Homo sapiens: one gene and its partners. The protein of the gene in region 1 interacts with the protein of each later gene in a pairwise test. Each region holds a gene or a part of one and is shown in the gene's direction. Other genes may lie near its edges.

The links.
Region 2: the proteins of PHYH (region 1) and TMEM135 come close enough for resonance energy transfer, tested with the Homo sapiens proteins (one large-scale study listed by BioGRID).
Region 3: the proteins of PHYH (region 1) and ACSL5 come close enough for resonance energy transfer, tested with the Homo sapiens proteins (one large-scale study listed by BioGRID).
Region 4: the proteins of PHYH (region 1) and TOM1L1 interact in a two-hybrid assay, tested with the Homo sapiens proteins (one large-scale study listed by BioGRID and IntAct).
Region 5: the proteins of PHYH (region 1) and IDI2 come close enough for resonance energy transfer, tested with the Homo sapiens proteins (one large-scale study listed by BioGRID).
Region 6: the proteins of PHYH (region 1) and ABCD1 come close enough for resonance energy transfer, tested with the Homo sapiens proteins (one large-scale study listed by BioGRID).

The regions. Positions count from the first base shown.
Region 1 is NC_000010.11:13,288,695-13,293,621, reverse strand, and holds part of PHYH (phytanoyl-CoA dioxygenase, peroxisomal isoform a precursor), read left to right. Parts: intron 1-1,709; coding exon 1,710-1,791; coding exon of another isoform or gene 1,792-1,797; intron 1,798-4,927. UniProt on the Homo sapiens protein: Catalyzes the 2-hydroxylation of not only racemic phytanoyl-CoA and the isomers of 3-methylhexadecanoyl-CoA, but also a variety of other mono-branched 3-methylacyl-CoA esters (with a chain length of at least seven carbon atoms) and straight-chain acyl-CoA esters (with a chain length longer than four carbon atoms).
Region 2 is NC_000011.10:87,323,402-87,328,328, forward strand, and holds part of TMEM135 (transmembrane protein 135), read left to right. Parts: 3' UTR 1-4,927.
Region 3 is NC_000010.11:112,408,075-112,413,001, forward strand, and holds part of ACSL5 (long-chain-fatty-acid--CoA ligase 5), read left to right. Parts: intron 1-347; coding exon 348-447; intron 448-1,432; coding exon 1,433-1,611; intron 1,612-2,388; coding exon 2,389-2,421; intron 2,422-2,509; coding exon 2,510-2,561; intron 2,562-3,381; coding exon 3,382-3,455; intron 3,456-3,827; coding exon 3,828-3,905; intron 3,906-4,927. UniProt on the Homo sapiens protein: Catalyzes the conversion of long-chain fatty acids to their active form acyl-CoAs for both synthesis of cellular lipids, and degradation via beta-oxidation.
Region 4 is NC_000017.11:54,958,957-54,962,988, forward strand, and holds the end of TOM1L1 (TOM1-like protein 1), read left to right. Parts: exon of another isoform or gene 1-1,609; coding exon 1,610-1,670; 3' UTR 1,671-1,671; exon of another isoform or gene 1,672-2,278; 3' UTR 2,279-2,308; coding exon of another isoform or gene 2,309-2,370; 3' UTR 2,371-3,000; downstream 3,001-4,032. Other genes in the region: COX11 (cytochrome c oxidase assembly protein COX11, mitochondrial), read right to left, coding at 3,777-3,959. UniProt on the Homo sapiens protein: Probable adapter protein involved in signaling pathways. Interacts with the SH2 and SH3 domains of various signaling proteins when it is phosphorylated. May promote FYN activation, possibly by disrupting intramolecular SH3-dependent interactions.
Region 5 is NC_000010.11:1,022,327-1,027,834, reverse strand, and holds the start of IDI2 (isopentenyl-diphosphate delta-isomerase 2), read left to right. Parts: upstream 1-1,975; 5' UTR 1,976-2,019; intron 2,020-3,090; 5' UTR 3,091-3,111; coding exon 3,112-3,253; intron 3,254-5,051; exon of another isoform or gene 5,052-5,059; coding exon 5,060-5,152; exon of another isoform or gene 5,153-5,198; intron 5,199-5,508. UniProt on the Homo sapiens protein: Catalyzes the 1,3-allylic rearrangement of the homoallylic substrate isopentenyl (IPP) to its highly electrophilic allylic isomer, dimethylallyl diphosphate (DMAPP).
Region 6 is NC_000023.11:153,737,417-153,742,343, forward strand, and holds part of ABCD1 (ATP-binding cassette sub-family D member 1), read left to right. Parts: exon of another isoform or gene 1-1,162; intron 1,163-2,675; coding exon 2,676-2,821; intron 2,822-3,157; coding exon 3,158-3,303; intron 3,304-4,927. UniProt on the Homo sapiens protein: ATP-dependent transporter of the ATP-binding cassette (ABC) family involved in the transport of very long chain fatty acid (VLCFA)-CoA from the cytosol to the peroxisome lumen.

The DNA.
Region 1 (4,927 bases):
TGAATAAGAGAAGTGAGCTAACTGCCGGGCGCGGTGGCTCATGCCTGTAATCCCAGCACTTTGGGAGGCCGAGGTGGGCAGATCACGAGGTCAGAAGTTTGAGACCAGCCTGAGACACATGGTGAAACCCAGTCTCTACTAAAAATACAAAAATTAGCTGGGCATGGTGGCGGGCGCCTGTAATCCCAACTACTCAGTAGGCTGAGGCAGGAGAATCGCTTAAACCCGGGAGGCAGAGGTTGCAGTGAGCCGAGATCATGTCATTGCACCTAGCCTGGGCAACAGAGCGAGACTCCATCTCAAAAAAAACAAAAACAAAAACAAAAAACAAAAAACAAGTGAGCTAACTAAGGGTAGGGAAATCATTGGCTAAATAACAGTACAAGTTATGTCAGAAGTTGTGAGGATGGCTCTTGAATGGCTGGCATTTAGAAAATCCCAGCCTAGATGAATACAAAAAAATACCAGGCTTTATAAAAAGCAAGTGTGTGCCTGACTGCTAGGCTTTTAATAACCTTTCCAGGGTTTCATACTCAAATTGCCAATATTCCTTATACACAAGAGATCAAAAAGTGAGGAAGCAGTAGAAGGTGGCTTATTTTTTGGAGTCTTTTTTTTGCAGAATCAAAATTTGAATATCATGGGTTGTTTTATTTTCTTCTTCTTCTTCTTTTTTTTTTTTTTTTTTGAGACAGAGTCTCACTCTTGTTGCCCAGGCTGGACTGCAGTGGTATGATCTCAGCTCACTGCAACCTCTGCCTCCTGGGTTCAAGTGATTCTCCTGCCTCAGCTTCCCAAGTAGCTGGGATTACCGACGTGTGCCACCATGCCCGGCGAATTTTTGTATTTTTAGTAGAGATATGGTTTTGCCATGTTGGCCAAGCTGGTTTTGAACTCCTGACCTCAAGTGATCCGCCCGCCTCGGCCACCCAAAGTGCTAGGATTACAGGTGTGCGCTAACGCACCCGACCTCAGTGTTGAGCCCTTTCTGCTTTTTCCCTCTCCGTTGCTGGGTTCTGTACACAAGGTAGCGGCAGCCCAGCTCCCAGGCCCCACGACTAAACCAGCTCTCCCTGTCACGGTTCCCCATGTTAGCCTTTTCTTCATAATGCAGTGTCCCTCGGCCACTCTGACCCATGTCATTACTGGGTTAACATTTTTCATCTAACTCCTGGGACCTGCTTTGCTTGTTCACTCTTGCTTCCCCATTTCCCGTCACCTCCTGGTTCCCAGATCTCAGTAATGAGTTGTCAAGTGCCAAGCGTCCCCGATTGTCAAATGTCCTCCAAGCCACCATTCTGCTTTCTTCCGGGCTATTCATGACAGCTGTGAATTGTATGGGACTCTTCGTATGCAGAGGCTCCAATGAGGAAGAGGAAACTGCCCTCCCACTGAGCAACCTTCTGTTGCTTGGGTTGACAAGAAAGCTATATTAATATCTCATCGGAACTCCTATGTTTCTTGTAGAGAAAAAATGGTTTCATTCCCAGCTAGCTCAGAAAAAGCCCATTTCATTCCGTGTTATAGATTTAGAATGATTTCCAATGGCTGGGTTTTTCATGCTTTGTTTGCAATGTTGTGAAATACCGCTTGGTTCTTAAACTATTGCCTTCTTGGTTCTTGTGTGGATAGCTACTGTACTTTGTACCAGTTGTCAATACTTCTGATTTCCCACAAGGTTTGTTTTTGTTTTTTTTTTGCTTTCTTAGATTCTGAAATATGTGGAGTGCTTCACTGGACCTAATATTATGGCCATGCACACAATGTTGATAAACAAACCTCCAGATTCTGGTAATTGTAAGGGAGAAGAAAAAAAAATGGTTTCATTAAAATGTGTAAGGTTGGCTGGGTGCAGTAACTCATGCCTGTAATCCCAGCATTTTAGGAGACCAAGGGAGGAAGATCTCTGAGGCCAGGAGTTTGAGAGTGGCCTGGGCAACATAGTGAGGCTCTGTCTCTAAAAATAAAATTTAAAAATATCCAGGCATGGTGGTATGCACTTGTAGTCCCTGCTATTGGAAGGCTGAGGTGGGAGGATCACTTGAGCCCAGGAGTTGAAGGCTGCAGTGAACCTATAATGGCATGCTCTCCAGCCTGCGTGACACAGTGAGACCCTATCTCTACATAATAAATAAAACAAAACAAAACAAAATAATAAAATAGCTGATGTCTAACTGTAATCATGTGTACAACTGTCAAACTTTGGATAAGGAAGTCTTAAAATAACTTACACTATAACAACAGTGAAATGTGGTAATTATTTCAGATATTAACTGTAGGACTGTTGCTGAATTTTCAGATGACTGGCTCCCCAAAAATGCAGTTTAACCGACATAACTGTTCATATATCAAAGGTTCCTGCCATTCGACGTCTCTAAGCTTGATCAGCTCTTTTTAGCTGTGATAGTGTGGATTCTTGCATTCCTGATAGGAAGACATTATTATTACTAACACAATTAAAATTGTTACTATGAGTCACAAACTATAGTGGTCTTTTTTTTTTTTTTTTTTTTTTTTGAGATGGAGTTTTGCTCTTGTTGCCCAGGCTGGAGTGCGATAGCGCGATCTTGGCTCACTGCAACCCCCACCTCCCAGGTTCAAACAATTCCTGATTCTCCTGCCTCAGTCTCCCAAGTAACTGGGATTACAGGCATGTGCCACCAAGCCTGGCTAATTTTTGTACTTTTAGTAGAGACAGGGTTTCGCCATGTTGGTCAGGCTGGTCTCGAACTCCTGACTTCAGATGATCCACCTGCCTTGGCCTCCCAAAGTGCTGGGATTACAGGTGTGAGCCACCGCGCCCAGCCTATAGTTGTCTTTAAAATGTCTTGTGCTTGCTAAAATGTAGAATCTAAGACCTCATTGGCAGACAGACTGATTGAGAAATATAACCCAGGTTTCTGTATTTTAATAACCTTCCTCAAGCTGGGCGTGGATGTGCACCTGTGGTCCCAACTACTCAGGAGGCTGCGGGGGGAGGATCGCTGGAGCCCAGGAGTTCAAGTCCAGAGATTGTAGTGCAGATCACTTGGACTACACTGGGAAATTCCTCTGTGCCTGCAGTAAAAATCAGCCATGAGAGAGTCCCCCTATCCTTTCTGCCTTTTCTTCCTTCTGATCTGCAGGAGGGGTTTATGTGATAGAAGGCAGCTTAGCATTACCAGGTCTCTCCCTCCTTGAGGAGAGCAGGTGTTCGGGAGCCACACTCAGGGAGCAAACCAGGGGAAAATGTCAGTGTGGTCATGGGCACTCCGACTGGACATGGAATGACTATAGTTGTGGGGGGTGAGGACCTCTTAGATAACTTTTTTTATTTTTATTTTTTTTGAAATGGAGTCTTGCTCTGTTGCCCAGGCTGGAGTGCAGTGGCTCAATCTCGGCTTACTGCAACCTCTGCCTCTGGGGTTTGAGTGATTCTCCTGCCTCATCCTCCTGAATAGCTGGGATTACAGGTGCCCACCACCACACCCAGCTAATTTTTTTTTTTTTTTTTTTTTTTTTTTTTTGGTATTTTTAGTAGAGACAGGGTTTCACCATGTTGGTCAGGCTGGTCTCGAACTCCTGACCTCAGGCAATCTACCCGGCTCAGCCTCCCAAAGTGCTGGGATTACCGGCGTGAGCCACCGTGCCCGTCCTGTTTTGTGTGTTTTTTTTTCTTTTTCTTTTCTTTTTTTTTTTTTTTTGAGACAGAGTCTCACTCTGTCGCCTAGGCTGGAGTGCAGTGGTGCGATCTTGACTCACTGCAACCTGCTGCCTCCTGGGTTCAAGCGATTCTCCTGCCTCAGCCCTCAGCCTTCCAAGTAGCTGGGAGTACTGGTGTGCACCACCATGCCCAGTTAATTTTTGTATTTTTGTAGAGACGAGGTTTCATCATGTTGGCCAGGCTGGTCTCAAATTCCTGACCTCAAGAGAGCTGCCTGCCTCAGCCTCCCAAGGTGCTGGGATTACAGGTGTGAGCCACTACACGTGGCTTAGAACTTTTTTTGACATCAGCCACTTCAAAGGGGATTTCAAACTTGACTCCATATCACTCTCTTCAATGTAATTAATGCAACTGGTTTTTGAACATGCATTACTGCATGCTAGGTACTGTGCCCAATCCAGGGTCACAAAAGAATAAAGCACAAGGCCGGGCGTGGTGGCTCACGCCTGGAATCCCAGCACTTTGGGAGGCCGAGGCGGGCGGATCACGAGGTCAGGAGATCAAGACCATCCTGGCTAACACAGTGAAACCCCGTCTCTACTAAAAATACAAAAAATTAGCCGGGCGTGGTGGCGGGCGCCTGTAGTCCCAGCTACTCGGGAGGCTGAGGCAGGAGAATGGCGTGAACCTGGGAGGCGGAGCTTGCAGTGAGCCGAGATCGCGTCACTGCACTCCAGCCTGGGCAGCAGAACAAGACTCCGTCTCAAAAAACAATAACAACAAAGAATAAAGCACAACAGAGATGAGGATGTTATACCGCTTGCTGGAAAATAGTGTGCATAAGTACTTAGCTACCAGCAACCCGGAAGAAGGGAGTGCGGGATTTGAAGATGTGGAGCCAGTGTGTTGATTTCCAATTTGGTGTTTATCTCTCCGGGGCTGATTTTCTCTAGCATTATTTCATTTGTTTGGTTCTTCTGGGGACAGGTCATTGTTTTTTCAGGCAAAGGATAAGAATTCTGAGACCAGCTTTTTTTTTTTTTTTTTTTTTTTTTTGGTTGGGGGTGGGGGACAGGGACTCGCTCTCTGTCACCCAGGCTGTAATGCAGCAGTGCAATCATAGCTCACTGCAGCCTCGACCTCCAGGCTCAGGTGATCCTCCCACCTCAGCCTCCCAAGTAGCTGTGACTACAGGTGCATGCCACCACACCCGGCTAGTTGTTTTTGTTGTTTTGTTTTGTTTTGTTGTTTTGTTTTCTGTAGAAACGGAGTCTCACTGTGTTT
Region 2 (4,927 bases), on another chromosome or scaffold:
AAACACAAAGAAACTTTGTGTTTTTGAAGACAATCAGAATGATTACCTTTCTACCTCTAACTAATCAGGTATTGATTGACAACTTTTTGGCATTATAAATAAAGTAAAATAGATCTCTGCATTCCAAAATATGTTTTTTAGTTTATTTATATCCTGAAGAAATGGTAAGTTTTCACTGGAACTGATTACAGTAAACAATAATATGTCCCCTTAGTCTTTCTGACATTTTTATATAGATTGAGATTGAAAAACCGTGCATTTGGGGCAGTGGTATTATGGTCATTTCGTTGCTATTTTCTGTTTTAATAAAATCCTAGAACTAGTAGCAACCGAGTAAAGATTGAGTTTGCAAGATAACAGATTGTCTCAAATCTATTCAATTCTCAGCAGTTTTTCATCAAATAATTTCAGGATCCATTTTATTACTCATTTTTGAAGTAACACCTTTGGTTTAGTTTTATTTTCCCATAAATTCTGCTTTTGCTTCTGTAACTTTTTTCTTGAACTATAAGCATAGTCATCACTCAGTTGATATCTAGTTTATTTTTTGCCTTCATTCGTTGTTTAGTCAGTTGTTATTTAATTTAGAATTTTATATTTTTTTGGCTCTCAGATTTTATAATGAACTTTTATTAGACTGAACATGTATGTTTTTGATGGAATCCAAACTGAGCAAATGTCACACAGTATTTTCTTGTTGTGCTCGAGTGTTCGTCTCCTTGTAGATTGTATCTAGGCTAACATTTCATTTAGTTGTTAATGCTGACGTAATTGTTTCCTGCTTATATTTTATCATATCCCTGAGCTTCTGTGTGCTCTACATTTCATAGGTAATGAAAAGCAATGTCCTTTACTCTCAGGGAGCTTCGTCCACTTGCCTGTGTCACAACCTCTCCCTTGGTGCTAATTAGGAAGCTTCTTGTGGGACTGAAGGGAACTGACCACTGGAGCAATGGCCCAAATGTTGTTTTTGGAGCAGAGAAATTATTAGCCCAGAGATTCCTTAAATTCTCCGTGTGATTTATTTTTTTATTTTTTGAGTTGAGGTCTAGCTCTGTTGCCCGGGTTGGAGTACAGTGGTGCAATCATAGCTCATTGAAACCTCAAATTCCTTGGTTCAAGCAATTATTTCCCCTCAGTCTCTAATAGCTGGGACAACAGGCATGTGCCACCATGCCTGGCTAATATTTATTTTATTTATTTTTTTTTTGTAGAAACAAGGTGTTGCTATGTTGTCCAGGCTGGTCTTAAACTCCTGGCCTCAAGTGATCCTCTTGGGTTGGCCTCCCGGGACTCTGGGATTCCAGGTGTGAGCCACGGTACCTAGCCATATTTTTATTTGTATGAGTATTAAGTAGTTTGACACAGCAACAAAGTTGTCCTTTGTTTCCCAAAGGCAAAAGTATACATTTCTTACTAAGATATCTTATAAACATTCTCTCTCCTAACACCTCCTTCTAGTAATCATTTTCACATAGTAGAATACTTCACTCAGCTGAAAATGAGTGGCCAAGAAAAAAATACAAGAAAAGGAATAAGAAGTGATTATTTTCTTTAGGGCTGCACTTTGAATGTGATGAGTAATAAGGTTACCTTCATTGTGGAGGTGATGTTTACAATTGCCTCCAGCCCTTTACTATTGGTGCTGAAGCCACCATTGGTGCCAGCTCTATAATTTCTTCTTCTTGTGGAATTAACAAAGAAAGGAGTGTCAAGGACTGAGATGACCCTCAGATTGGGGGGCTGTCTTAGATTCTAGGGCTTTGTAGTACTATGTTTCTGTTTAAAGTAGTGGCCTCAGGTGACTTTGTAATAGCCCTGTAGTTGCAAAAAGGGTAACTACAAAGAAATGAAACTGACTCTAGTGTGTGTGACTTCTGGAAACAGAAGTGGGGCAGTAAGTTGGCCATGATATAGCTAGTGTCATAGGACTACAGCAGAGTAGTGAGTGAATGGCCTTAAGCTTACAGCTGTGGTGAATAAGAATGTGTGCTATTTTACACACAGAAGAAAATGATTGACTTTTGGTTGGAGGAAAGAATTTATATCTGGTCTTTTGGAAATTATTCTGTTGCTGTTTTATGTGGGCTCTCTCTCTCTCCCTCTCTCTCTCTCTCTGTCTGTCTCTCTTGCTGCTCCCTCTCCCTGCCACCTTGTCCATTCTCTGCTTGCTGGTGTTACTTTATGTTAACTAGTCTCCTTGGACTTCATTGCAACCTTTTAAGCCAGCCGTTCAAGTGAGAGGCTCTGGAGTGATCATAACGGTGATAACAATGGAGTAAACATTTCCAGAGACACTGATTTTTTTTTTATATGCTCTGTTTTTCTTAGGCAGGATGATGTAGAAGATAATTGCACAGATATGGAAGGAGATGTTTCTCTGTATGTGAAGCCTTTAAATCCAGAACAATTAATTTCTTCTCTTCTTAAAACCCCGTAACATCACTTGACTCTGGAATTTCCTATTTTCTTTTACTTTCTCCATTTTTTTTCCATCTGTCCCTCCTACGAATATGTTTTACATGAAATAATGTATTGGGTTTTATCTTTTGTCCCAGCAGACCTGAAAATCCCAGTATATTACCACAGACACACATACCATCTGGTCACCAACAGGGACATCAGGGCCAAGAGCAGTTTATACTTCTTTCTTTAGCTCACAAACTACTATAGCTTGCCTGTTCAGTTTTTTTTTTTTTTAATATTCAGTTTTGTGCCATACTCTCCCCCACCCCCAGCCTGCTGCCTCTGCAGAGCATAACATTCTAATCTTGTCAGACCGTGGATAATAGGATGTTCCCTGGTCTTGGCATAGAGGCCATAGGCATACAACATGCTTTATCTGCCTTGCTTAGACTCAGCATCCCTTTCTGTCTTGAGAGATTCAGGCTTCCATAAAGTAGACCTGTAGACCTATGTTGGCTGAGGTCACCCTGCATTACTACTTTCCTCCATCCCTGAACTAGGACCAGTTAATTTTCGAAGTCTAGTTCTTCAGTGTCTATTAAACTTTTTCCAGTAGTTAATCGATCTCTTAAATTAATTTTCTTTTCAGATTATTTTTGGTCACCTAAGAGGACCCTGAAGCTATAGTGCCAAAGGTTTAAAGCATGAAGTACATTCTGTGGTTGGTCATTATGGGATTGGATGCCAAAAGGAATGGGAGAGAAGAGACTATAAACATATTTTAAGCCTTATCTCTTTTCTCCTATTCTTTTCTTTACCTTTCCTGGCCCATGCTTTCCTGCCATATCTTTGCTATGTATTTCTTCATCTTGAGCTCTCAAGGGAAAAAACAGGAGTCCTTATTTTTCTATTTATTTCAGGGAAAATTGAAGGTAAATAATATCTGCAAAGCTTCAGGAAGAAATTCAGTTGCATCTGAATCTGAGTCGGCAGTTTTTGATAGCCTGTCACTGCTCAGGGATAGCACTAAGGCTCTCTTCAGAACCAAAGGGCAGGATAAATAAATCTATGAAACTAGAGGCATCATTGAATCATCTGAGGACCTTTTTTTTTTTTTTTTTTTCACTAAAACGCTTCCTATAACTTGGATTAAAATTCAAAAATGGGATTGCAGTCATTGTTAATTGCTCAACTAGTGGCAGTTTTTCCTTGCTGAGGGAACACTGATGTTGTTTAAGACAGTTACATGCCTAGCCCCAGGGATGAATCATAATTGTTCTAGGCCTTTCATGTCTTTCCTTTCTTCTTGTCCAGATACTTTTCCAACCAGCCTTTACTCGGAGGTGTTCATGTGACCCTGTTTTGGCCAATAAAATGTAATGGAAAATCTGGGAAACACTTGGGAAAAATCTTCCCTCTCTGCTTAAAGGAAAGTTCTTTTTACCTCTTTTTCTCTTGTTCAAGGTATTAGTATTAGTCAGTAGGGTCTGAATCTGTGGCAGCAATCTTGCAGACATGAAATGAAAAGTACAAACATGAAAAACCAGCATATTAAAGATGCCAGGTCAGAAAAATAGAAAGAACCTGCTTCTGTGAGCCACTGAATGGTGCCATTAACCATCTGCATTTGAGCATTTTGAGAAAATAAACCTCTATTTCTTAAAGTTCTGTATCAGTCAGGGTTTCCCAGAGAGGCAGAACAATAGGGATAGAGAGATACATAGAGAGAGATATGAGAGGGATAGAGAGAGACACAGAGAGAGATATGAGAGGGGATTAAGGGAGTTGGCTCATGTGATTGTGGAGGCTGAGAAACCCCACCACAGGCCATTCATAACCTGGAGACCTTGGGATGCTGGTGGTCTGGCTCAGTACAAGTCCAAAAGCCTTGGAACCAGGGAAACTGATGGTGTAATTCTCAGTCCAAGGCTGAATTTTCAAGTCTGAGAACCTGGGGGTGGGATGGGGGAGTGATAGTTTTAAGTCCTGGAGTCCCAAGGTTAGAGGATCTGGGGTCCTAATGTCCATGGGCAGTTGGAGAAGAGTGTATCCCTGCTGCAGGGGAGAGAGAGAAGCCAATTCTCCTTTCTTCTGTTTTTATTCTACCCAGGCCTCCAGTGGATTGGAGGTGCCTGCCCATATTGAGGGCAGATCTTCTCTGCCTAGTCCACGCTAACTCACATGCCAATCTCCTCTGGAAACACCCTCACAGACACACCCCAAAATAATGCCTTACCAGTTCTCTAGATATTCCTTAATCCAGTCAAGTTGATGCCTAAAATTAACCATCACAGGCTTTATGGCTCTATTACCCAAGAATTCTGTTACTTTCAGCTGAAAACATTTCTAATGGACATATTCCAATTCTGTATAGATCAGATCTCAGTTTCATTTCCCATTATATCCTTCTCTCTCTTGATTTAGAATTCTCTTTTTCTCCACTCTTCTGTGTATGCTAAAATACTGTCAATCTCGTCTTTGAAGGTTTTGCTCATCTTTAAAAAATCTTAGTTGATTATGT
Region 3 (4,927 bases), about 99 Mb from region 1:
GATAGGTTGAGCCTAGGAGTTTTATGCCAGAATGGGAAACATGGTGAAATCCCGTCTCTACAAAAAATACAAAAATTAGCTTGACATAGTGATGTGTGCCTGTAGTTCCAGCTACTCAGGAGGCTGAGGTGGGAGGATTGCTTGATCCTGGAAGGTTGAGGCTGCAGTGAGCTATGATCACACCACTGCACTCCAGCCTGGGCAGCAGAGTGAGGCACTGTCTCAAAAAAAAAAAAAAAAGCAAAACAAAACAAGACAAAAAACCAGACAGCATTTGTTGGCTGAATGACTGAACTGGTACTCTTCAGTGTGCCCTCCAGTCCTTACTTGAACTTCTCTCTGTACAGTGGATCATCTCCGAATTGGCTTGTTACACGTACTCTATGGTAGCTGTACCTCTGTATGACACCTTGGGACCAGAAGCCATCGTACATATTGTCAACAAGGGTAAAATTTTGCTGTTACATTACAACTTGATTCTTTCTCAATGCTGAGTATTTCTTCAATTTCTGCTTTTTTGTTTATTTGTTTGTTTGTTTAAGCAAACTTGAAATGCTGTGGTCGGAAAATGTTCAAGTCTTTCTAGTTTTGTAGTACTTAGGATATAATTTTCAGGAAAGCTACAAAAAGCCCATGAAGCAGAGATACACACAGAAAGAAGTTTCAATGACATGCGTCAGGGTGACATGGTATGATGATATAGAGACAAGACTACTCACTCTGAACACACTAGATAAAAGCCCAGAGAGTGAGCTTAATTGACTTAATCACAGTAAAGCTACAGATTTAATTTCCTACCTTTGTAAATCCAAGTCAATACAGTTAACCAGCATGTACCAATGTCCATGGTGAGTCTGCAGAAAATAATTGTCGTTGTTAGAGAAACAAGTCCAAATTTGATGGGCAAGTAACAGCCCTTTCACATATCCAACATGTTACCTTCTGTCATGGGACTAGTAGATTAAGTGAGTAAGTCCATTTGCACAGTAAACATCATTTGAAACTTTAAACATGCATCAAAGCAAATGCTAAAATTTAGAATTGTAAAATACTTGTCAGCTAAAAATCCTATTTGCCCCCTTCTTTTTCTTCTATTCCCTACTATCCTCCTCAAATAAAACAGTGATAGAACCACACCTCAGTAACCTGTTTAGGTTATCTGAATGACTTCTTAAGCAGAAGGAATTCTGTGGTTCCTCTAGAAACTGTAAAATCTGCTGGCACAGTTCAAGAACATGTGCTTCTGTTTCAGTTAAGTTCATTTATCATCAATGGAATGTTTCAGGTTGTACATTATAAATCTGATTTGCAGGTGTAATCTCCTTTGGACACCTGTTAGCTTTGAAAACTTTTAAAACCTCTTCCTTCTTGCAAGGCAATCAGGTACTTAGCAGAGAGAGGGAATGACCTCTGGTTCTATTTTGGCTTCCAGCTGATATCGCCATGGTGATCTGTGACACACCCCAAAAGGCATTGGTGCTGATAGGGAATGTAGAGAAAGGCTTCACCCCGAGCCTGAAGGTGATCATCCTTATGGACCCCTTTGATGATGACCTGAAGCAAAGAGGGGAGAAGAGTGGAATTGAGATCTTATCCCTATATGATGCTGAGGTATGGATCTGAAATTTAGCTTGCAGCTCCAATGCTTGTCCAACACCTTGGGCAACTTGCAAGATACCTTCCCAAGAGGACAGTGTTCTTGTTCTCCAGGGGTGGCACGTGAGGAGTAGATTAGACTCATGCTGTGAAGCTCTGAGAATAATTTCCACAAGACAACTTTGAAACTCATGCCAGGAGAGGACAAAGTTCTGTGGCCAGCTGTATGGACTTCTAAGTGGATAATATATAAATAGGGGTTTAGTAATAGTTAAAGGATGTGGCTCCTGGAGCCAGGCTGCTTGGGTTCGCATGCCAGCTCCACATCTGTTAGGCAACCTTGGGCAATCTCATCTCCCTTCTCTCGGTCCGTAAAATGGTGATAAAAATAATCACTACCTCACAGAGGTCTTGTAAAGAGTTAGCTTAATTCATATATGTAGATTTCTCAGGACAGTGATGGATATGTAATAAGCTCTGAAAATGTTAGCTATTCATTTCTTTCAAAAAAGATTTAGTTAGGGCCCTAGATGACTGAAACTTAAGAGTACAATGGGAAGTTTGAACATGCAATCTACCCTCTATAGGTAGATGATTTTCTAGAGAAATCTTATGCTCTTCCCTGGGGCTTCCATTGTTCCTGAATGTTGGCTTCTGGTCCTGATCCAGGTTGGAATTTTGCTTATATTCCCATAGAGATGTTCTCACGGGAAAGGGAGGGAGAGGGCCACATTTATCACAGTCTGTCCATCTCAACTAATGTCTTTCTTTCTTGGTTTTCCATTCACATAGAACCTAGGCAAAGAGCACTTCAGAAAACCTGTGGTAAGTTTTCTTCTGCCTGAATTTGAGCCTTGCCATAGTCAACTCTCAAAGTTCATGGTGGAATAAGCCCTTGTGCTTCCTCCTCCAGCCTCCTAGCCCAGAAGACCTGAGCGTCATCTGCTTCACCAGTGGGACCACAGGTCTGTGCCCATGAAACTGAACCTTAGACCCCTGGTCAGCCAAGAACATGGCTTCAATTCTTGGCCACTGGTAGGCTGGTAAATACTCCCTCTAAAGAGCCCTATACTTAGGGGCTCACAGCCTAAGGCTTCTAAGTGTGAATTCCCAAATGGAAAAACATAAACATAAGTAAATACACTTTATTTAATATATTGGGAGGTGTTTATATTCAATAGATTTCAGGGGTCTTAAAGATGATGTCAGAAAGTCCTTTCCCCCGCCCCCACCAACCCACCACTCTCTTGATTTGACACCGCTGGAATGGTTTCATTCAATCAAGATAACTCAGTGATAGTTCTCCATAAAGGGCTTCAACCCCACCCTACATCCACCCATCTGTTAGAATGCTTAATAGTTTTTAATGTGGTCCATCATGGTCTACAGTTATATTCTTTCTAGTATGCCCAGTTTATAAGGTTTATAACCATATCACTATATAATATTGGTAGATCTGGAATTCCAAACATATAAACAGCATGAGATGTGGGGCAGAGGGACAAGGAGGGTTAACTTGAATTTTTCTTTGCAGCTGTGCTTCTATCTGAAATCATGGCTGTGCTCTGCATAGTAGTAGAAGGCCAACGATGCATTCAGCAGTAGAATCTCCGGGGGCATTAATTATTCCTAAACAGAGGCATATACCATCCACAAAAAGACACAGTGACAGGAAATGCTCTTGGCCTTCTGGAATAAAACCAATTGAATCTAGTTTCTTTCAAGGCCAAAGGCTACCTATTAGCTACATAAAGTATCTTTCTCTCCACCTCTTATTTCCTACAGGTGACCCCAAAGGAGCCATGATAACCCATCAAAATATTGTTTCAAATGCTGCTGCCTTTCTCAAATGTGTGGAGGTCAGTGGTCAGTTGAAAAAGAGGCTCTCATTAAAATGTGAATCTGTCATAAGATTTTTATTTTTGAGGTTAGAGCAGGCAGACACACACACACACATACACACACACACACACACACGTTAAAGGCTGGAGTGTGGACAAACACCAGCGTGTTCTTTGTTTAGAGGACTGTACATTTTCAAGCGTTGGTCTTTTAGGATCACTGCAAATTTCTACACTATATGCAGTTCAAGGCATCTCAGATCTACACAGTGTACCGCCTATACAGCTGTCTGTGGTAGTCCTGGGAGGAGGTAGTTTTAAAATCTCCATTGGAATTGAAAGTTGGCATTAATCTCATGTTGCCTCCTCTTACTTCCCTGGCCTACATAGCATGCTTATGAGCCCACTCCTGATGATGTGGCCATATCCTACCTCCCTCTGGCTCATATGTTTGAGAGGATTGTACAGGTGAGTGTTCTGTGTTCCTAGCAGTATGTGGCAAGGGGGTCCTGACTTGCTATCACATGTTTATTCCAAAGGCAGCTACACAGTATTTACTGTTCTTTCTCCGGTGTGAGAGGTGCAGGCAAGGAGTTGGCTCATGGGAGCCCTAATCATGGCATGGCCCCTCATTTCCTGCAGAGTCTTCCTCTGCTAAGTCTGCATGTGTCCAGGGAGGATAGTACTTGCTCCTGCCTTCATGGGGGTGTGTGAGTCTAGTGACATCACAGCTAGGAGCTTACTATCTATCTGCCCTTAATTCTGAGCTGACACAAGACATTGTCTTCTTTTTAAATTTTATTTTGGTTAGAATTTTTGAAAAGATCTAGGATTAGAGAAAAGGAAGTTCCCTACAGAGGATCAGGGAAGGAGCATTTGATCTACATAAGGTGTGAGATGTCCCCCGCGCCGGTTTTTGCACACCTGAGTGTGTAAGGTGGTGCTGTCAGCATGGTGCATACCGGAGGAGGTCTGCTCTTCTGTGAGTGGACTCCAGGCTTTTCAGGCTATTTTGAGGCTGATTTGAGAACCAAGAGCCATGTCAGCCTTTCAAAAACGCAGGTAGTGTGGTTGGAAAGTTCTCTCTCTGCTCCTCGCTACCCCCAAATGCCTCTTCAACAAGCTCATGGTTGATGCCTAAAATGCCAAAATGCAAGATTCAGTTCTTTGGGCTAAAGTAATGATATCTGATTCATAAAAAAATTGATTCTAAGAAATCTTAAAAAATATTTTAACATAATTTATGAAATTGTGATGGTCTTACGATTGAAGGCAGGTTCTGCTTTAATTGGCAGTGCTTTCTTAGTGCCACATAATGAATTGCGTCTTACAAAGGATGATTATCTTAGACTGTCACACAGACCTGTGGTGGAGTCTGGGGGACCACACAGTCTCAATATCTGTCTTATCTGTCATGCCACCACAACAGAAATAAATGTCCATCCTTTCTTGGGGGAAGGTTCTCAGAGTCCTGAATTGGGAGGGAGGTG
Region 4 (4,032 bases), on another chromosome or scaffold:
CAGGATCACAGAAATAATGGACAATACAAATGAAGATAAACTTGAAGATTTAGTGATGGGAAAATGAGGAAGTTTCCATATCAAGACATTTAATGTATTAAGAATGCAGTTTCTACCAGAGAGTTTAGAGGTTTGAGGAGAGTGAAGAAGACTGAAATCGTTTTGAGGGAGATGAGACCAAACTTTTTAGGGAAACATTAAAATTGTAGCACCATTCTGGGGCCTTATGAACTTGGTGATCATGGTTTCATAGCGCTGTGATTTTTGAGATTTTTCCTCAGCCATGTTTTGCTATACTGTATATATGAATGTTGTGCTTTCAGGTATATTTTCCAGCTACAGACATATGTAAGACGCATATAAAGAATTGAATGGGCCTGGCATGGTGGCTTATGCCTCTAATCCCAACATTTTGAGAGGCTGAAGTGGAAGGATCACTTGAACCTGGGAGGTCGAAGCTGCAATAAGCCATGATTGCACCACTGCACTCCAGCCTGGGTGACAGTGACCCTGTCTCAAAAAAAAGAAAAAAGAAAAACGAATGAAGGATGTCATTGAAAAAATACAATATAAAAAAAGTACAGAAATGACAGTGATGAGCTATAGATGGCTGAGGAGTCTGGACTGTAATCACATAGTTTAAATAAGCTGGAAGATTAATTTTTTTTTTTTTTTTTTGAGACGAAAGTCTTGCTCTGTAGCCCAGGCTGGAGTGCAGTGGCACGATCTCAGCTCACTGCAATCTCCGCCTCCTAGGCTCCAGTGATCCTCCGACCTCAGCTTCCTGAGTACCTGGGACTACAGGTGTGTACCACCACACATGATAATTTTTATGTTTTTTGTAGAGATGGTATTTTGCCATGTTGTTCATACTGGTCTTGAAATCCTGGACTCAAGCGATCCACCCACCTCAGCCTCCCAGAGTGCTGGGATTATAGGTGTGAGCCACTGCACTTGTCCTAATATTTTTTTAAAAAGTTTGAAACCAGAAGAAACTGAGGAGTTTTTTAAGCAAAACATAAACTGTCCAAATTTGAGTCATATTTCTCATTTCAATCACAAGAAAAAATTAATTGGTTCTATGAAATACATACTTTTAAGAGACATAGGAATTGCAACAATAAGGCCGGGTGTGGTGGCTCACACCTGTAATCCCAGCACTTTGGGAGGCCGAGGCGGGTGGATCACCTGAGGTCAGGAGTTTGAAACCAGCCTGGCCAACAGGGTGAAACCCTGTCTCTACTTAAAATACAAAAAAATTAGCTGGGCATGGTTGTGTGTCCCTGTAATCCCAGCTACTCGTGGGGCTGAGGCAGGAGAATCACTTGAACCTGGGAGGCAGAGGTTGCAGTGAGCCAAGAAAGCACCATTGCACTCCAGCCTGGACAAAAGAGTGAGACTCTGTCTCAAAAAAAAAGAAAAAATGAAGTGCAACATTAGAATTTAAATAAACTAGAATACACACTTCAGGGCAGAGACTTATTTTTACTCATATGTAGCCTGAACTCCAAAACCAGCTCAATTTTTAATTACAGTGCTGGCAGTTAAAAACCAAAATAGCACTTTGAAATTGATACATAACCCTTTTGCTGTGATGGCTTTGTTTCAGAGCTATTTATGAAGAAATTGATGCTCACCAGCACAAAGGAGCTCAAAATGATGGTGACTGAGGTAAAGACTTCAACTTATACAACTTAATTCCATATTCCATATAATTTCAGTATAATTATCACTTTACATATTTAGTATTTAAATTTTCTAAGGGCCATCTGAGTCTGACACTTTGAAATATGAGTTCCCCTGAATCATTCAAATTGTGCTGAACCATTGTTCACTAATGAGAGTCATTCTTTGTGATTTTCTCATCTGTAAATAGTAAGGCTTGGGAATACAGTAGTTTATGGTATAGAAATATTAATGCTAACAAAATAGATGAGCAATAGGAGTAGCACTGAAATCAGGCATTTGTTTTTCATATGCAGTTAATACTTGTTAACCGGTACCAGTAGACCCATTTACCGTTAGTCCTCCAAATAGGTCTGAATTTTTCCTATTTTCAGCACTACTAATCCCATGTATTTACTATTTAATGGTCACCAATGAACTATCAAAACTTATTTATTCCCCTTATACCCTCCCCTATGGAAGAAGCACATTCTTACCTTTCTTCTACTAGACTGTGACTCTCCAGCTTCCCAGTAAAGACAAGAGAGTTATCAAGGAATGGGGAAAGAGAAGGACAGGATGAATACTGGCCATTTTCTTCTCTTTATTTTAGAAGAAAGTGGATGATCAGCTCACTACCACATCAAAGGTGCCAACTCTCTAAAACGTAGACTCTGTGCAGCTTTGAAGCCTGGAAGACAATACCTACCAACATGTCAAAGCCATGGTGGCACATTTCTGCTATAATGAAGATTAAATAGAATAACAGTTCCAGGATAACACTGATTCCTGACAACAGCGTGAGATTTCAACAGAACTTGTTTGGAACAAATACTCACTTAAAACTTCAGCAGAAGAAAAATTACTTAGTCCTTAGGCCAACCAATTTAACTGCAGTGTCATGTTTCACAGGCCTTCCTACATTTAGAAATCGTCACACAGCTGTGATAAGAGTAGATTATTTTACTATGAAATAATTCTGAATAGATGAAAGCATAAAATGTGAGAAACTGAATGTATTATTCAGGAAGAATACTGAGTGCCTTCATTTAACTAAAGTTGAATGTAAAAGTCAATTTGCACTTCTTTATAATCCTCTGGTTTAGAATTATAAATTGTTAAAACCTTGATAATTGTCATTTAATTATATTTCAGGTGTCCTGAACAGGTCACTAGACTCTACATTGGGCAGCCTTTAAATATGATTCTTTGTAATGCTAAATAGCCTTTTTTTCTCTTTTTACTGCAACTTAATATTTCTATTTAGAACACAGAAAATGAAAATATTTAGAATAAGTTGTACATTTGATGACAAATAAATCACTATTAAAACAATTTAATACTTTTTTTTTTTAACAAAGGTTTGTTTCCAGAAGAACTTTTGATGTCAGTAAATCTTCACAATCCCACCTGTACATTTTAACATTCATGGACTTGTAATGGTGATGCTTTGGCTAACAGCCTAGTAGATGTATTTTATTTCAATTTTATGATACTACAGTTTCAAAGTAATTATTCAGAACTCTGAATATAAAATAGCCCTAAACCTTAAAGGACAAATCAAATTTGAAATAAGAATTTAAATCTTTGGACAAGCTGTTAGGGCTTAGTGACTCCTCTTCTACTTTGAGCTTTTAAAATACTGACTATTCATAATGAAGGAAAATAGCAACCAACTCTTTTAGACACAATAAACATGGTTAGAAGTTCTGGCCTATGACTTGAAACAAATAACCCTGAGCATACATTTTTGAAAAACATTGTCAGATTCATTGCTGTAAGTATGAAGAGTTAATAATCTGGAAGGGAATTATGGAATTAAGCTGAACCCATGCCTGCATATTTAAAAAACAAAGCGGCTTATTTTAATAGTATCAAACTCTTCAGTATGGTATTGAATAGTCAGTCATATATTCTAGCTAGGCATATGAGTTTCTTATGATAAAAGCTGAACTTGTTCTCTCAAGTTTAAGTGAAAAAAATTAGTTGAGAAAAAATAATTATTTAAAATATAAGCCTTCATATTATTGTACAATATTTCTCCTTTGAGAAGATAGGATATATGATTTTCCCAAAAATCACAACTTTGAAGGAAGACTTAGTTGCTGACTTCAATTATATCCTGGAACTGGCAACTTGTGCCCTTCCTTTGCTTCAAAAAAAGTGTAAGAAAGAGTGATAAGATCAACTTTAATCATTCTTGGATCTTCAGCAAATTCAGGATCAATGTAGAAAAACACTGGCATATCTACTTCCTCTTGGGGATTAAGCCTTTGTTCTTCAAAACAGAAGCACTGGAAATTATAGAAAGATTTTAATAACATTTCTATTCTCGTATTACATAACAGAAACTATACAGTTCTTTTA
Region 5 (5,508 bases), about 12 Mb from region 1:
CTTGGCCTACTCCTTTTTAACTCTTTCCACTTCCATTTCTTTTTACCTGCTTTTCCCAGTCTTGGCCTCCATGTCCTTCTCTATATTTCACTGATATCTAGAGCCCTTTCTGTTGCTTCTAATTTGCCTTAATCAGATGTAATCATCTATTCCTAGAGTTTATTCTTAACCTCCTACCTGCAGCATTATAGGTCATCAACTGTCATTCTTAAAGTTGTCATAACCTCTCTTAAGAAAATTCTCCGCATATAGCCTAATCAAAATGTCTTCCTTCCTTTCCTTTATAATGTTTTTTGTGTGCTTTATGTGTCAGAACCTTGTACCCAGATCAACCTAGCAAAGGGTTTCCCTCCTTTTTTATCCCCTAGAACATTTTACAGAGAATGACAATTCCTTCCTTGAAATTTTGATAACATTTGCCTCTAAAGCTTTCAGTGCTTAGTTTGGTGGTGACGATCCCAACATGTTAAACTGCACAGATTCTGGGGGCTCAGCTGCATCTGCAGCCACATTGCCTTGGGCAGGTAATTTACCTCTCTGTGCTTCAGTTCCTTATCGATGCTGTGATAATAAAAAATAACGCTTATCTCAGAAAGCTGTCGTGAGGACCAAATGAATTAATATACATTAAACTCTTAAAATAGAAACTGGCACAAAGGAAGGACACAATGTGTGTCTGGCTGTCTTACTATTATTATTATTACTATTAGAGTTGTTGGATTATAATAGGTACGGTATTGTATATTAGTTTCTTCCTCAAAGCCTAATTCATAGACTTATTTATTATTTTTTAGATCTTTAAAAGAGTATCATTCTCCCATTCTTACTCTTCTGACTGCAAAAGAAACAAGTTTCAAACAGACCATTTATTCCTGAGTCTCAGAACTGATTTCCAGGGAAAACATTTCAGGCATAGCCTTTTGATTTTCTACGTAACTAAAAATTACATGCATAAAGGTGAACTTATGGAAAGACAAAAGAGCAAAACACATTAATCTTTTTATAGAATATTACCCATCACTGCTGCTGTGTTATTTTTGTTCTGTATTATCCGTGCCAAAGTCAGCGGAGTCATGCGTCCATCGTGCTTCTCTCCTCATATTCCCTGAGAGAACCGACAGATATGGCAAACATTTTTTTGATATTTTAAGAGACCCTACTTGCAAAACTATTTGGCCTAGAGCTTTAGTTGGTAGATGATATTTGGAATATGATAGGCAAGAAATTATACAGTTTTTTAGCTCTTCCAAACACATTGGTTTCCAAGGTCTTGCATTTATTTATCGATTTTCAGCTATCCTAAGAATTTATTCAGTAATTTTAGTCACAATGTTTATTATTTTTCTCTTCCATTTGCCACCTTTATTTTTTCTTTTTAAAATCTGGGATGATATATACAGCAAGTGAATTAAAAAGATGCCATCGAACGGCGCCGTGGCTCACACCTGTAATCCCAGCACTTTGGGAGGCCGAGGCGGGCGGATCACCTGAGGTCAGGAGATGGAGACCAGCCTGGCCAACATGGTGAAACCTCGTCTCTACTAAAAATACAAAAAAATTAGCTGGGCGTGATGGCGGGCGCCTGTAATCTCAGCTACTCGGGATGCTGAGGCAGGAGAATCGCCCGAACCCGGGAGGCAGAGGTTGCAGTCAGCCGAGATCACGCCACTGCACTCTGGCCTGGGCAACAGAGCTAGACATCACCTTAAAAAAAAAAAAAAAAAGAAAGCCATAGAGTAGAAAATAACTTACCCTAGGTTTAAAAACTAAAAGCATTTTTTAAAGTGAGATTGTGTCAAAACAATTTTCTATTATCCCTCAATTGAGAGGGAGAAAGATAGAGAGAAAGAGATGGAGAGATAGAGAGAGACCGGGGTGTGTTTTCTTGTTAAGAATACAAAAATATCAGATTGCCTTAGCTGATATCTTTCTACATCCCCAGGGTATAAAAGGGCCCTGGTTCAACTTGCACATTGAGTTCCACATCTGATACCCAGGAGTCTCCAGCTTCCAAGAGAGGTTAGTGCATATGTTTTACCTTGTGGGAATTCTTTCTTTTATGATCTAAATTTGTACATATTCAGTAATTGTTTTCTCTGCATTTCTATTGTATCTCATGTCCATGCATTAAGTCAAACAGCCTTTTGCAAAGAGGAGGAGCAGATTGCTGAAAATATTAACAGTAATGATAATGGACAGACGTGAATGCATTTTTTTAAAAAGTAGAAAAGGATGATGAGAAGGTTTTACATGAAGATAAATGACCCTGAAAACATTTTTTTTTTTTTTTTTTGAGACAGAGTCTCACTCTGTCTGCCCAGGCTGGAGAGCAATGGCACGATCTCGGCTCACTGCAACCTCTGCTTCCCAGGTTCAAGTGATTCTCCTGCCTCAGCCTCCTGAGTAGCTGGGAATACAGGCATGTGCCACCAGGCCTGGCTAATTTTTGTATTTTTTAGTAGAGAGAGGGTTCCACCATGTTGGCCAGGCTGGTCTCAAACTCTTGACCTCAAGTGATCCTCCCACCTCGGCCTCCCAAAGTACTGGGATTACAGACGTGAGCCACCGCTCCTGGCCCTGAAAACATTTTGTGAGAAGATCTTCACCTAAGAATCTGCTTGGCTCTGAAGAGGACCATAGCCCTTCTGTGGGTGACGTAGCTTTCCTACAAGGCTGTGTGTTTCTCCACGTCTGATCCAGGTCCAGTGGTTTTGCACAGGGCTGCACTTTTCCCCAAAAACTTGTACAAAGAGTGTTACCTACAGTTTACCTCGGTGTGTTTTGTGTGTGTGTGTGTGTGTGTGTGTGTGTGTGTGTGTGTGTGGTGGGGCGGGGATTCTTTAACTCGTCACTAAAGGAAACCTGGAAAACATGAGGAGTATGTATGTACCCAAGATTTCCCGTTCAGAGAGACACCACATTAGAAACAGATGATTCACCTTCCATATCTCAGAACTGTGCTGCTTCAACACAATTGCTGTCACTTGTAGAGAAGGTGTATGCTAAATCCTAATGTGGTTGGTAACACATAGCAAAAACGAGATGGCAATATCTTTCACATAAAGAGGCATTTGTGTGCATCTATTTCAGGTCGGGTCACAGCCAGCAGCTATGTCTGACATAAATCTTGACTGGGTTGACAGGCGTCAGTTGCAGCGCTTGGAGGAAATGCTGATTGTTGTGGATGAGAATGATAAGGTTATTGGTGCCGACACCAAGAGGAATTGCCATCTGAACGAAAACATTGAGAAAGGTAGCCCCCGCCCATTTTCTCTGTCCAGTTCCCAGGGTTTTCCCATTTTTCCCACCCGACGGCAACCTAAGAAGAGAGTCTAGGCCTTTCCGGCTAGGAGGCGACCACTGGGTCACCTGTGTGCTTGCTGTGCCGTCTTTAGAAGGCTCGGGGAGCAGCACCTGGATGACGTCTTTGCTTGGTCAAGCCCTTGTCAGGCTCCTGCACCTTCTCCTAGGCATCCGTGCTCTTCCTCGTAAGATCCTGTTTCAGCAAGAATTCTACCAGGTTGTTTTAGCGAGAACCCTGACCTTGGCATCTGATTAAATTCCTCAACCCCGTCCCTCCCAGGTGACGTCTGATCACGCAGGCCTGTCTTCAGCAGGTCTTGTTAGGTCGGTGTAGCCAGAACCCCCTTCCCACTGATGTTTTCTCTTAGTAACTTTTAATCCATAGGCCCCAGCCTGCTCCTTGGGTGTTGTGTGCAGTTAGGCTGGTTCTCCATGGAGGTCTCTTTCCCCTATTGAAATGGTTCTCAGTAAAGTCAGACTTTCCTGCTTTAACTCCTGTCCAGCTCTGGTTTTCTTTGACCATCTTAAGCCATTTTATTATTTTTTAATTTTCATTTTTGTGTCTTTTTTATAAACACATAATAATTATGCATATTAATGGGGTACATGTGATAGTTTGATACCACCATGTCATGCATAATGATCAAATAGGGCATTTTGGGATATCCATCACCTCAAACATTCATCATATCTTTGTGTTGGGAACATTCCAAATCCTCTGTTCTAGCCACATTGAAACATATAATACACTGTTGTTAACTACAGTCACCCTACTGTGCTATTGAACAGCTGATATTATTCCTTCTCTATCGCGGTATGTTTATACTTATTAACCACCCTCTCGTCATCCCTCCCCACTGCCCTTCGCAGCCTCTGGTGTCTAGCATTGTGTTTTCTGCCTCCATGAGATCAACTTCTTTAGAGCCCACATAGCAGTGAGAACATGTGATACTTGTTTTTCTGTGCCAGGTTTGTTCCACTTAACACAATGGCCTCCAGTTCCATCCATGTTGCTACAAATGACAGGATTTCATTCTTCTTTTTTTTTTTTTTTTTGAGACAGAGTCTTGCTCCATTGCCCAGGCTGGAGTGCAGTGGTGCAATCTCAGGTCACTGCCAGCTCTGCCTCCTGGGTTCATGCCATTCTCCTGCCTCAGCCTCCCGAGTAGCTTGGACTACAGGCACCTGCCACCACGCCCAGCTAATTTTTTTGTATTTTTAGTAGAGACGGGGTTTCACCATGTTAGCCAGGGTGGTCTCGATCTTCTGACCTCGTGATCCGCCCACTTCAGCCTCCCAAAGTGCTGAGATTACAGGCGTGAGCCACCGCACCCGGCCCGATTTCATTCTTCTTTTGTGGTGGAATGGTATGCCACTGTGTATCTAACCCTCATGTTTTCAACCCTTCAAACCTCCACGGACACAGGTTGATCTCATATCTTGGCTGTCGTAAATGGTGCTCAGCACCCAGGAATGCTGCGATATCTCTCTGATAGACTGATCTCTTTTATTTTGGATATTTGCCCTGGTAGTGGGATTTCTGGGTCATCTGGTAGATCTATTTTTAGTTTCCCGAGTGTTCTAATCCGCTGAGATTCTGAAACGTTGTGTTTGGGCATCCAGCAGTCCCCTTTGCCCTGCCCAGGTGCCACAATCACAGGCTTTTCTACGAGAAACAGACTGAGGACAAAAAGCACGAAGGACAATCGTACAGACTCCAGGCATGCACTCACACAAATGGCACTTACCTTTGCAGGGCTGCTGCACCGAGCCTTCAGCGTTGTCTTGTTTAACACCAAGAATCGAATCCTGATACAGCAGAGGTCGGACACGAAAGTCACGTTTCCTGGTGAGTCCGTTCAACCAAGCCCCGGACTGAAGAGAGCATCTCATGTGACTTGACCGGAGGAATCTGGGACAGGAACTCTCTGGTGCTCAGTGCCGCACTGTGGTGAGCTGGCAGCTCATCCTGCAGAAAATCGGCAGCTTAGGCAGATGCTAATTATGCTGATAGCTCTTCAGTAGGCTGGGTTTTCTTTTTTAAAAAAGTAAGAAACTATATGAGTTTCTGGGTTTTTTTGTTTTGTTGTTTCTTTGCAACGGCAAGTTACTTAAATGCAGAGGAATTTATCAACCTAAGGATTTAGGGGATTAAAATAGCATTTAGCATAAAATTAACTAGGTAATAATAATAAAAATTATCTT
Region 6 (4,927 bases), on another chromosome or scaffold:
CAGAGGCAGGGCTCATAAAAGAGACTAGTGATACCAGGATTGACCAAGGTTCACCCCGGCGTTCCTGGCCCTATCATCTGATGCCAACTCCCCACACTCCTAAGAAAGCCAAGACCCGGGTGGGGGGGCTCTGGTTCAAACCTTGCCGCTCGACCTCCCTCGGAAGGCCACAGCAAGGAATCCACAGATCACCTGTGTCCCCAGCCAGGGGTTTGGACAGGGCTGGGGAGTAATGGAGTGAGGGGGAGACTGGGGTGGAGGGACAGGTAGAGAAGTGACAAGGAATCACTCATTCATTCACTCATTTAACCAATGTGCCCTGAACTCTGAGCCGGGCACCAGAAACCCGAGGTAAATCAGGAGACCTGCACTCAGGGAGTCTTCACTGTGGAGGGGCACTAAAGTGTTACAAAGGGTCTCCAGGTAGACAGCTGTTCAAGGGACAGTGGGGGTCACAAGAAGAGTGGTCAGAGTCCCTGGGGGTGGTGGGGGTGGGATGAAGCCTTGCCCAGGAGTTGCTGTGAGCGAGTGGGCAGGCAGCTGAGGGTAGAGGAGTGAGGGGCCGTGGGCCTGAGGGGCAGGTCACGCAGGAGGAAGCAGAGAGGAGGGGCATGCCAGGGAGGAGGGGGCCGGCACAGGTGGTTACCCCTCACCGCTCGCAGCGGCCCCTCCTAGGATGTCGGGGGAGCTGATCACCAGTGAGTCCAAGGAAGGTGGTTTCCAGGCTGGCCCCGGGCAGCACAAGCAGGCAGGGGCAGCGGGCAAGCTCATGGGGCCCCTGCGCGCAGGGCCACATATGCTCAGGGAGCCGGGTATGCGAGATGGGGCAAGGCCCAGGCCCCACCCTTCAGGAGGGGACAGTCAGGTGGCTTCATTAGCATCCTGTGGCTGCGGTCACAAAGCGTTACAAACTTTGAGTGGCTTTCCCAGCAGAGATGGCCTCTCTCCCGGCTCGGGGAATAGCAGTCCGAGAGGAAGGCGCAGGCAGGGCGGGCTTCTGCCAAGGACCGAGAAGGTGCCTCCGCTCGGGGCCTCTGTCCCAGCTTCTGCTCTGCTGCCCATCTGCGGGCTTCCCTGGCTTCTGCCACGGCAGGTCGGCCTCAGCCTCTGTCTCCACACGGCGCTCTCCCTCTGGGTGTGTCCGTGTCTCCGTCTCCCCTTTCTGTCAGGACACAGGTCACACTGCATTAGGGCCCACCCCTCTGCAGAATGACCTCATGCAGACCTAACTCATCACGTCCGCAATGACCCTGTTTCCAAATAAGCTCACACTCCGAGGTAGTGGGGATTAGGGTTCCCACATAGGAATTTCAGAGGACAGAGTTCCACCCATGACACTGCCTGAGGTAAGCTAAAGACCACGGCCTCAAGTCTTCCCAGGAGCCCCGTGTAGCATTGTTGTTGTTACCGTGAACTTCACTGACTCCAGGCCCCTGGCCTCCTCCCTGCACACAGCCCGCCTCCAGCCTGGCCGGCATTTTCCCAAAGTAGGCATTTCCTAGCTCCAGCGAGGACCATGGAGTCAGTGAATTGAGGAGCCTGAGGTCCATGATGCAGAGCCCAGGGGCCACTGTGGCATCTCTGGGCCACTCTGGCACCTGGGGAGGCAGTGGGGTCTGTACTGTCAGTCTAGAGACATAAAGAAAGTGCTTTTTGGGCCGGGCGTGGTCGCTCATGCCTGTCATCCCAGCACTTTGGGAGGCCGAGGTGGGCAGATCGCTTAAGCCCAGGAGTTCAAGACCAGCCTGGGCAACATGGCAAACCCCGTCTCTACAGAAATTTTTAAAAATACACAAATAAGCCAAGTGTGGTGGCGGTGCCTGTAGTTCTAGCCACTTGAAAAAAAAGGCTAAAGTGAGAGGGTCTCTTGAGCCCAGGAGGTTGAGCCTGCAGTGAGCCATGATCCCACCACTGCACTCCAGCCTGGGCAACAGAGCAAGGCCCCGTCTCAAAAAGAAAAGAAAGAAACTGCCTTTTGTCCCCAGTGACTCAGGAGGCCAAGGTGAGAGAGTCGCTTGAGGCCAAGAGTTTGAGACCAGCCTGAGTAACATAGCAAGACCCTGTCTCTAAAACAACATTTAAAAATTAGCCAGGCATGGTGGCGTGCATCTGTAGGCCCAGCTACTCAGGAGGCTGAGGTGGGAGGATCACTTGAGCCCAGGAGTTGGAGACTGCGGTGAGCTGTGATCATACCGCTGCACTCCAGCCTGGGCAACAGAGTGAGGTCTCGTCTCTTGAAAACAAAGTGCCTTTCAGGGCAGTTCCTTAAAGGGGGCTGACAGTTGACCCTGCACTTGGATTCCTGGTGAAGTGGGAGTCGGATGGGACTGAGGACGGCGCTGGCTGTGTTGGAACACACCTACTCATTCAGCTGTGGCAGAATAGGCCCTTCCTCTTGTGCTGGCACCATGTTCTCCAGGCGTGTCAGGGCCTGAGGACTGGGCCGGGGCTTGTCCATTCCTGTGTCCTGGGCCAGGCATTTAGCGAGAGCCAAATTTAGCTAGGGCTGTGGACGCTGGACCCCATCCCCCAGGCCCTGCTGTCCCTTATCAAGAGATCAAGAATGGCCTGCGTGCTGGCCTCGGGCATTGGGAGCCTCTCAAGGCTGGTCAGGAGGCCATAGGGTACGGGAAGGGGCCTGCGCTCTCTGGCGTCAGCGGCTGTTGCCCCTGCAGGTGGAGGAAGGCATGCATCTGCTCATCACAGGCCCCAATGGCTGCGGCAAGAGCTCCCTGTTCCGGATCCTGGGTGGGCTCTGGCCCACGTACGGTGGTGTGCTCTACAAGCCCCCACCCCAGCGCATGTTCTACATCCCGCAGAGGTAAGGAAGCCCGTGCGCCTCTCCTCCACCTCTTCCTGCCTGTGCGCTCACACATGGCTTCCTGCAGAGGCCCAGGAAGTGGTGAAGAGTCAGCACCTCAGGAGAGGACACTGAGGCACTGTCCCCAGAGCCAGAGACGGGCTGTGGTTCCTGCTCCCTCCAAACCCGCCCGATCCACTGCCCTGTTTTGGATCTGTGTGGGGTGTGTGCACGGGCGGCGATGTGAGCGTGTGGATGCGTGTGAGCGTGGCATGTGGACACTGCCTGGGAGGCGCAGAGTATCTTGGGGGAGGCAGAGCCGGCCCTTCCCTCCGTGGACACCCAGCTTTCCCACAGGCCCTACATGTCTGTGGGCTCCCTGCGTGACCAGGTGATCTACCCGGACTCAGTGGAGGACATGCAAAGGAAGGGCTACTCGGAGCAGGACCTGGAAGCCATCCTGGACGTCGTGCACCTGCACCACATCCTGCAGCGGGAGGGAGGTAGGAGGCCTGGGGCTGGCAGCCACCCTTTGTCCCACCCTGGCCTCTCCCTTGGCCTCCAGGGAGTGAAGATTACCTCAACATCCAGAGTCTAAAGTGCCAGGTGCCACGGGGCGGGGCAGAGGCTGCTACCAGGGAGGACCAACACCACACAGATGGCCCCAGGTGCTCTAGGGAAGGGGGCACCTAGCAGGGATGTGCACCTCACTGGGGGACCCAGGATACCCTCTCCCAGAGAAAAGAGGTCTGAGCTGAGCCCTGCAGAATGCTGAGTGGTTACCCCGTCCGGAAGCCAGGGGCAGCAGGGCGGAGTGCGTTCCGAAGGCTTGGTGGTGCGAGAGGCTGGCTCACAGAGGGCCCTCGGGACCAGGCGGGAGCCTAGGCTTTCCCTGAGCAGGATCAGACGCTCTTGGAAGGACCATGGGGTGGTGGGCAGGGGCAGCCTGGGAGGGGCAGGCACATGTGTGCAGTGATGGCTACTGTCAAGAGGTTTGTGCAGACGCTTGGAGGGGGCTGGGGCCAGCAGAGTCAGGTGGATTCAGAGATGAGTTCACTGAAAAGGAGGCCAGACTGAGCTGTTGTCTTGTCCTGGGCTTATCAAGGAATACTGCTTGTCCACAGTGTCTGTCGGGCCGGAAGAGCGGAGGAGGAGAGGGGGCTGCAGCTACAGGGACACAGTAGATGGAGTGTTCAGTTCTGTCTTTGAATTCTGAGCCTCTGGGTTCTGCTTCCAGCCTGCACTGCTGGGTGCGAGATGGCCCTGGGCAAGGACCTCGCCTTGCTGGGGCTCCCCTTCACGGTTCAAGGGCACGGGCACCAAGCCCTCCCTCGGTGGCAACATGAGAAGAAGTGGCTCCTGCAGGAAATGGCCGGGGTGTTGTCACCTGCCTGTGGAGGAAGCGGGGACACAGGTGGCAATGGCAGTGGAGCAGCCCCTGGCCCGGCCCTGCCTCTTGCTCCTGCTGCCCTCAGCCTGGGAGCACGTGGCCCCTCCCGCCTCTGTGGCAGCCTGAATGCCCAGGGCCTGTGGCCGGCCAGCATGAGCCATTAGGATGGAGTTGAGCTGCGAGGAACAGAACGGGCCTCCCCGCAATAGTGGCTAAGATCATCTGTGAGTTTATCCTACTGAGCTGTTAGGTCCCAAGAGAGCCAGGCCACGGTTGCCAGGGCTGGCCCTGCTCTGTGAAGGCCCCAGGGCTCGAGGATTTTCTACCAGGTCACTCTGCTGTGTTTGGCCTCCGTTCCCAAAGTCACCTCATGATCCAGGAGGGCTGCTGCAGCCCTCACATCATGTCCCAGGCTGTAGGATGGAGGAAGTAGAAGGGAAGGGGCAAAAGGTATGTGCCTTCTTTTAAGGAAGGTTCCAGAAGCCGCCATATTGAATACTTACAGTTATATCTCATTGGCCACAACTTAGTCTCATGCTCACACCTCATCACAAGGCCACCTGGGAAGCGTAATCTCTACTCTGGGTGGCCATATGCCCTGTTGCCACTTCTAGCCCTGGGCCGCTGGGGAAGGCAGCATGGGCGAGAAGACAGGAAGGGCCGCTTCTGCCGCAGCGCCCCGACCTAATGGAGCAGCCGGCTCACCTGCTCGTTCAAGCAGCCCACTCGAGCCTTGC